2 linked regions of the Homo sapiens genome follow. The protein of the gene in region 1 purifies or fractionates together with the protein of each later gene. This does not show direct contact. Each region holds a gene or a part of one and is shown on either strand. Other genes may lie near its edges.

Region 1 (3,753 bases):
AAAAAAAAAAAAAAAAAAAAAAGAAAGAAAAAAGGATACACAGTACTAATTTGCTAGATGGATGCTGCAGATACCCTGGTGGCCATTTAGACATAATTTTTAAGTCGTCTTTCTGACGTGGATTCTGCTTTATGCTAAACTTCAACAAGGCAGCTACTAACCTAAGCAGTCCCTGCTTCTCTACTCTTCCTGAAATGTGGCTGCTAGAGGCATCTAAACTCTAACCAGGCAAGTTCAAATATTCTGCCTCCATCGCCATCAAGAGCTTCTAAAGGAAATGAACACTATGGGAAGTGCTGTATTCTGGGTGAAAATAGCTACAGTTCCTCAATCTGGCACCCACACTGCTTAAACATCTCTTCTAACCAAACTATAGAGTTTGAAGAAAAGAGAGGTGAGAGGAATCAGACTATAGTGCAGGATACCATAGAATCATAATTTGAGCAAGAACTTTAAAGCCACTCTCTCAATCCCTTTACCCAAGCTACCCAGACAGAAACTAATGGATTTCTGTGGTCCACAGAATGAACCAAACTAGAAAACAGAGGAAATGGTAGGGGTCTGCTTTCTTTGTAGCATTTATTCCCAAGAGAGAAATCCAAGGTCACTAGCTAGCAACAGAGCCACAACTAGAGCTTAGTTAGAACAAGGGTCATGGATACCATTCACTTTTTCTTTTACCCCAAAAGGGCCTGAAATCATTCTACTCCATTTTAGTCCTCATATACAGTCTATAGATAAACATGGACTCCTGAGTCAAGCCCAGTATACATGTCTCTATCTCTGACCTTGGAAATCCAAAAGGTCACCAATATTTGTGCCTTCTCTTTGCTTACTAGCTGAGTATATAACACGTGACCCATTCTACCCCATGGAAACACAGATTGTTCTTCAGTTTGCAGTTGCTCAAAAACATAAGGCAGGCTGTTACACTGCCCCAGGCCTTCTGTGTTCTATTTCTTTGCCTTTGCTCATGACCCAACAAACAACCTATTCCTCATTATTATCTGTTTTGTGGATTAGTCTGAGATAATGGTTTCTCAGCTGCTCACGGAGGCTGCATTTTGTTAGAAAGGATTCACAAATGGGCAAGGAATTAGACCAGATAACCTGTAAAATTCTTCCTACTCTGAGGTTCTACAAAGCACACTCTAGAGGCAGCCTTCTCTCCATACCATCTCACAGTCAGCTGGCTCAAAGGGAATGGTAAAGGTGTAAATAGATGCCAGTCTCCATCCTTATCATCACATCAGGTTAGAGAAATCACTTCTTCCGCTGGACTCCTCTGGCACATCTGACTATTACATCTTGGCAACTAGCACAGGCTTTCTGGTGGTGTTACTTATCTTCTTCTAGAATTGTCTATTCAGCATCTACATTTAAGTAACTAATTGGGACCCTAAACTTGTTCAAAAATCAAACTCTTCATTTTTTTTTTTTTTTTTTTTTTTTTTTGAGACAGAGTCTCGCTCTGTCGTCCAGGCTGGAGTGCATTGGCACGATCTCGGCTCACTGCAAGCTCCGCCTCCTGGGTTCACACCATTCTCCTGCCTCAGCCTCCCGAGTTTCCCGAGTAGCTGGGACTACAGGTGCCCGCCACCAGGCCTGGCTAATTTTTTGTATTTTTTAGTAGAGATGGGGTTTCACCGTGTTTGCCAGGATGGTCTTGATCTCCTAACCTCGTGACCTGCCCGCCTCGGCCTCCCAAACTGCTGGGATTACAGGCATGAGCCAGCGCGCCCAGCCCGCAAACTCTTCATTCTTATTTGCCATCCTCAACCTGCTCCCCGCTGCAAGTCTTATCCACTTCAGCAAGTGATAATTCTGTTCTTCCAATGGCTAAGTTAAAAACCTCATGGTCTTCCTTGATTACTCTTTCACTCTTAATCCAATGCATCAATTACATTTGTCAGCTCTGCCTTCAACATATATCCAGAACCTGATCCTTCCTCCTCTCCTTCACAGCTTATCACACTGCTCTGAGGTACCATCAACTCTCACTTCAATTACTGTATAATAGCTTCCTAATCAGTCTTCCTGCTTCATCTACTCTTGCCCCTTTACAGTGTAACCCACATAGTAGCCTGAGTAGTCTTTTTGTAAAATAAGTCGTATGTATCATATCACCCCTCTGCTCAAAATATTCCACTCGTTTCCAATCTCAGGTTAAAACCCAAATGCATAGGTATGCGCTGAAAAGAGTGGAAAATAAAAAAAATAATAATTTTAAAAAACCACCCAAATGCCTGCACAATGGCCTCCTACTACATCTCTGATGTTATCTTCTATCACCCTCCCCCTTGCTCATTTTGATCTAGCTACACTGGTCCTCTTACAGTTCTTCAGTTATATCAAGCACAGTGACACCTCAGTCCTTTGCACTTGCTGTTCCTTCTGCCTAGAACACTCTTCCCTGAGAAACTTTGCTCCTTAATTCCCTTCAGTATCTCCTCAAATGTAATCTTATCAGATAGGCCTTGCCGGACAACCCTGTACAAAATAGCCAGACTCCACCCCACCCCAGTCACTGCCTTCCCTATTCCCCTTACCCTGATTTATTTTCTCCATAGAAAATATTTATTATTATTACCTTATATACATTTACTTAATTTTACTTTCTGCCTCCTTCCTCCCACAAGAATGAAAGTTCCGTCAAGGCAGGAACTCAGTTTTGGTTCACTATTATATCTCCAAAGCTTAAATTATTGCATGACATGTGTAGTAGGTACTCAATAAATATTTGTATATTAAATTAACTGATCTGTCCTTCCCTGCCCCCAACCTATAAACCTGTTTATAATGAGAAACTTTTCTGTCTTCCTATTTGTGTCTTAGCCCCTAGACTGTGTCCTGAACACAGCAAGTATTCAAATAATGTTTGCTATTACGAGGATGCAATCACGACTCTGCAAATCTTCAGTTTGTGCCAGATCTTGGTGTTATACTGGTATTTCACGCTTCTCTTCTAAGCCTCTGAAATTCTCCAGCCCATGATTTGTGGTGATATGGATAGCTAATCTATAGGGCACACCACACAGACCTGCTCTAATAGACAGAGATTCTGTTCAGGTATTTTATGGTAAGTTTGCTTTACTGTGTTCAACCATCTTTCCCCCAGCATCATTCCTAATTCTAGTCAGTTTTGAAAAAGCATTTAGCTATGATCAGAAGCAATCATATGTAGGAAAGAAAAACTCTATTGCCAGACAAGTAAGAATATGGCCTAATGCCTACAGGTAAGTATAATATCATTTAGGAAAGACAGCATATTACCACATAACATGACTGTTTTTAAAAATTAAAAAGTCCTTAGCACAATGAGAAAAACTTTTATGAACCTGGTAGCTAAAACAAGATAAATTACAATAGGCAAATTTCCAAGAACGGAGATGTTTTTCTCCAGCTTCACTGAGTTAAAAAAAAAAATCAGGGCTGGGTGTGGTAGCTCATGTTTGTAATCCCAGCACTTTGGGAGGCTAAAGTGGGCAGATCGCTTGAGACCAGGAGTTCAAGACCAGCCTGGGCAATATGGCAAAATCCCATCTCTACAAAAAATACAAAAGTTAGATTGGTGTTGTGGTGTGCACCTGTAATCCTAGCTACTCAGGAGGTTGAGGTGGGAGGATCTCTTGAGCCTGCGAGGTCGAGGCTGCAGTAAGATGTGACTGCAGCTGCATTCCAGCCTGGGCAATAGAGTGAGAACCCGTCTCTTAAAAAAAAAATCAAATATAATATTACTCACTCATATCTCTG
Region 2 (3,753 bases), on another chromosome or scaffold:
TGATAAACATTAAGCAGCTTGACCACCAAGTTGTGGTTCTTTCCTACCAGCTGTGTTAATCACATACAAAGAAACGTTTATCTATCTTTGATGCTGCTTTTATAATAGATGTTTATAGTCTGAACTCTGTGCATTGGGATTTAGTAGGTTCTATGTCACTGAAATAATATGCAGAATTGTGTGGATGTGAATGTGTGTGTGCACTGGATAGAGAGAGGGTCATAGCTTTGTTCAGATACTTGAAGTGGCTCATGATCCACAAAATGATTATAAGGTCTTAATGTGAAACAGCTTGGTGAAATGTGTGGTTTTTTTCCATTCGCTGCCATATTCAGATAGATTTTCTTAAATAGTGTTTAGCCTGTAGGTCACCAGTTTTAAAGTTTATGGTGACAGATGCTGGCAGAGTCTGGGTGATGACAGACTGACTGCAGTTTTAACCACAGTGTTTCCATTCAGCCTGAAACTGGAACTTACTGAGACCATCAAGGACCGGCTCCACCAGATCTGGAAGACATTAGTCCCTTGGGGCCACAGTTAAACTTTAGAAAGAAGTTAAAACTTCTTTCTGAAGAAGTTAAACGTATTTAAACAACTATGACAATCAGTAAAAACCACATCTTCCTTTGGTTAATTTGATGAGATTATTAATTCCGGAATTTACTTCTTTTTTTTTTTCCTCTGCATTGTTGTTTATGGACAAGAGAGCCTGTAACAGGTTGGGGCAGGAGTGATCTGGTCTATTAAGTAAACATGTTTTTGAGAATTATTCTGAAGTGAATGGACTCTCAAGATAATGTATAACAGGAGTGGAGATAAAATTTCTTGACCTGCAAAGAGGGCCCACCCATATATGTTTTTCTGGCTGGTATAGATTAACTACCTCACAGAGATCATCCTCTTCACTTCACCATTTCCTTGGTTGGGAGTTGAAGAAAGTGGCTAGTTGAACCCCTGCTAAAGGGTAGAAATGTTACATCATGAGTTTAAGCATTCTCTTTTTCTATCTGAGGTCCAAAAAGGCTTCAGGATAGTCCCAGACTTGAGACAAGTTTGTTTGTTTTTTGATTTTTTAGTTTATTTAAAATCCTTAATAGTGCAAGGATTGTGCTATAATTCTGATCACTGTGGAATTGCTTAGTGTACTGTCATTTATAACATTAAGCACAGTTATCCTTAAGAAAAGTATTCAGTTGTTCAGACAAGTTTGACCATCAACTATATTTTTTGGAGTTGAAGGAATGTCGATTGACTCAGGCCTAGCCCCTCATTCTGGCTCTCCTTGTTTACTTTTCTCTTTTTCATTTTTCTTTTTTAAATAACAGTTTTATTGAGATAGAATTCATGCATTTAAATGATTTTTTTTTACTATATTCATGAGTTGTGTAACCATCACCACAATCCATTTTAGCGTATTTTCATTACCTTAAAAAGAAATCCTATACCCATTTATAGTCATTTCCCATTTCCCCCTAGTCTCCGCAGCCTAGACAACTACAAGTCTACTTTCTGTCTCTATGTATTTACCTATTTGGAACATTTCATATAAATGGGGTCATACAATATGTGAGTCCGTTGTGTAAGGATTAAAATTCCCTTTTATCTTCCTTTCATTTTAGTAAGGTCAGTTCCACCTGGCATATAGAACCTGGGAGTTGTAGCTTCTAAACTGTGGTAGCTTTTGGTGTATTCAGCACTGAGAACCTATGCAAGTCCCTTTTCTTCTTTCTTTTCTATAAAATGATGACACTGTTTAGCTCCCCAAGGGCATGAGAAGAGTTAGCAGAGATGCACAGATTAAAGTATAAATTCAGAGAACTATTAAGAACTTCCCTGAGCCAATACGTTTAGCACTGACTTGCAGAATTTAGCATCTAATATTTATGCTGCTCACTTGACATATATAATATCCTTTGATCCGGCCGGGCACAGTGGCTCACACTTATAATCCCAGCACTTTGGGAGGCTGAGGTGGGTGGATCACCTGAGGTCAGGATTTCGAGACCAGCCTGGCCAACATGGTGAAATCCCATCTCTACTAAAAATACAAAAAATTAGCTGGGCGTAGTGGCACACGCCTGTAATCCCAGCTACTCGGGAGGCTGAGGCAGGAGAATCACTTGAACCCAGGAGGCAGAGGTTGCAGTGAGGCAAGATCGTGCCATTGCACTCCAATCTGGGCAACAAGGCAAGACTCCGTGTCAAAAAAAAAAAAAAAAAATTCTTTAATCCAAGCGTCAAGGCTGTTTGAACCATATGTCAGACCAGAGTAGGATTTTTCTCAAGAACAACATCCAGACTTATGCAATTATATTTATTGAAACTAGCTTTAATTTTTTTTTTTTTTTTTCTTTTGAGATGAAGTTTCGCTCTTGTTGCCTGGGCTGGAGTGCAATGGCGCCATCTCGGCTCACTGCAACCTCCACCTCCCGGGTTCAGGTGATTCTTCTGCCTCAGCCTCCTGCGTAGCTGGGATTACAGGTGACTGCGACCACGCCCAGCTAATTTTTGTATATTTAGTAGAGACAGAGTTTCACTATGTTGACCAGGCTGGTCTTGAACTTCTGACCTCAGGTGATCCAGCCACCTTGACCTCCCAAAGTGCTGGGATTACAGGTGTGAGCCACCACGCCTGGCCACTTTAATGATTTAAAAACATAAATTAAAAACCTGATGTCTATTGTGAGATATTTTATAAGCTAAAAATTTGGAGTTACTACCATCACCTTCCCCCTATTTTTCTTCTTCTATCGATTCACTCTCAGCCGGCAGTCTTTATATTCAGAGTCATCATGAGAAAGAACAAGGTTAAAGTCTACAGTTACCTTTGCTGCTGTCATATACCATGTATGAGCAAGTGTTCTGCTGTTTCCTTCAAGTGCTTGTTTTTGTAGAGTAATTTGAGTAAACTGAATTGATTTTCCCCAACAGACTTACCCCGAATAGATTTCAGTAGTATAGCTGTGCCTGGCACATCAAGTCCCCGGCAGCGCCAGCCACCAGGAACACAGCAGTCCCACTCATCTCCTGGAGAAATAACTTCATCTCCTCAGGGCTTGGACAATCCAGCCTTGCTCCGAGATATGTTGCTGGCCAACCCGCATGAGCTGTCCTTGCTGAAGGAACGCAATCCACCCCTGGCAGAAGCTCTGCTCAGTGGAGACCTTGGTAAGCTTATAAATTTGGAAGGCTATTAGGCTGGCCTGAGGTGAAGAAGCTGTGTCATAGCAAATGTGAAGAGACTCAAGCGACACTGTGTCACATGATTTATTGAACATACCAGTTTTTTCTCTGTGAGAGGTAAATTAGTGCTAAAGTCAAAGGCTGAGTTACTTGGAAACAGCAATAGAGTTTTAGCAGTGAAATCCATCTAGGCCACCCCCCTTGGTTTACTTTTTGTTTTCCTCATTGTTTTTGGCAGCAGATAACCTAGGTACTGATTTTTGTTTGTTTCTTTGTTTTTTCTTTGAGACGGAGTCTTGCTCTTTCGCCCAGGCTGGAGTGTAGTGGTGCAATCTTGGCTCACTGCCAGCTCCGCCTCCCGGGTTCATGCCATTCTCCTGCCTCAGCCTCCCAAGTAGCTGGGACTACAGGCGCATGCTGCCACACCTGGCTAATTTTTTGTATTTTTATTAGAGACGGGGTTTCACCGTGTTAGCCAGGATGGTCTCGATCTCCTGACCTCGTGATCCGCCTGCCTCGGCCTCCCAAAGTGCTGGGATTACAGGTGTGAGCCACCATGCCCAGCCAGTA

What was found.
Region 2: the proteins of NRIP3 (region 1) and DDI2 purify together in Homo sapiens (affinity purification with mass spectrometry; 2 studies listed by BioGRID and IntAct, with this or other methods). This does not show direct contact.

The regions. Positions count from the first base shown.
Region 1 is NC_000011.10:8,997,357-9,001,109, forward strand, and holds part of NRIP3 (nuclear receptor-interacting protein 3), read right to left. Parts: intron 1-3,753.
Region 2 is NC_000001.11:15,627,394-15,631,146, forward strand, and holds part of DDI2 (protein DDI1 homolog 2), read left to right. Parts: intron 1-2,931; coding exon 2,932-3,168; intron 3,169-3,753. UniProt on the Homo sapiens protein: Aspartic protease that mediates the cleavage of NFE2L1/NRF1 at 'Leu-104', thereby promoting release of NFE2L1/NRF1 from the endoplasmic reticulum membrane.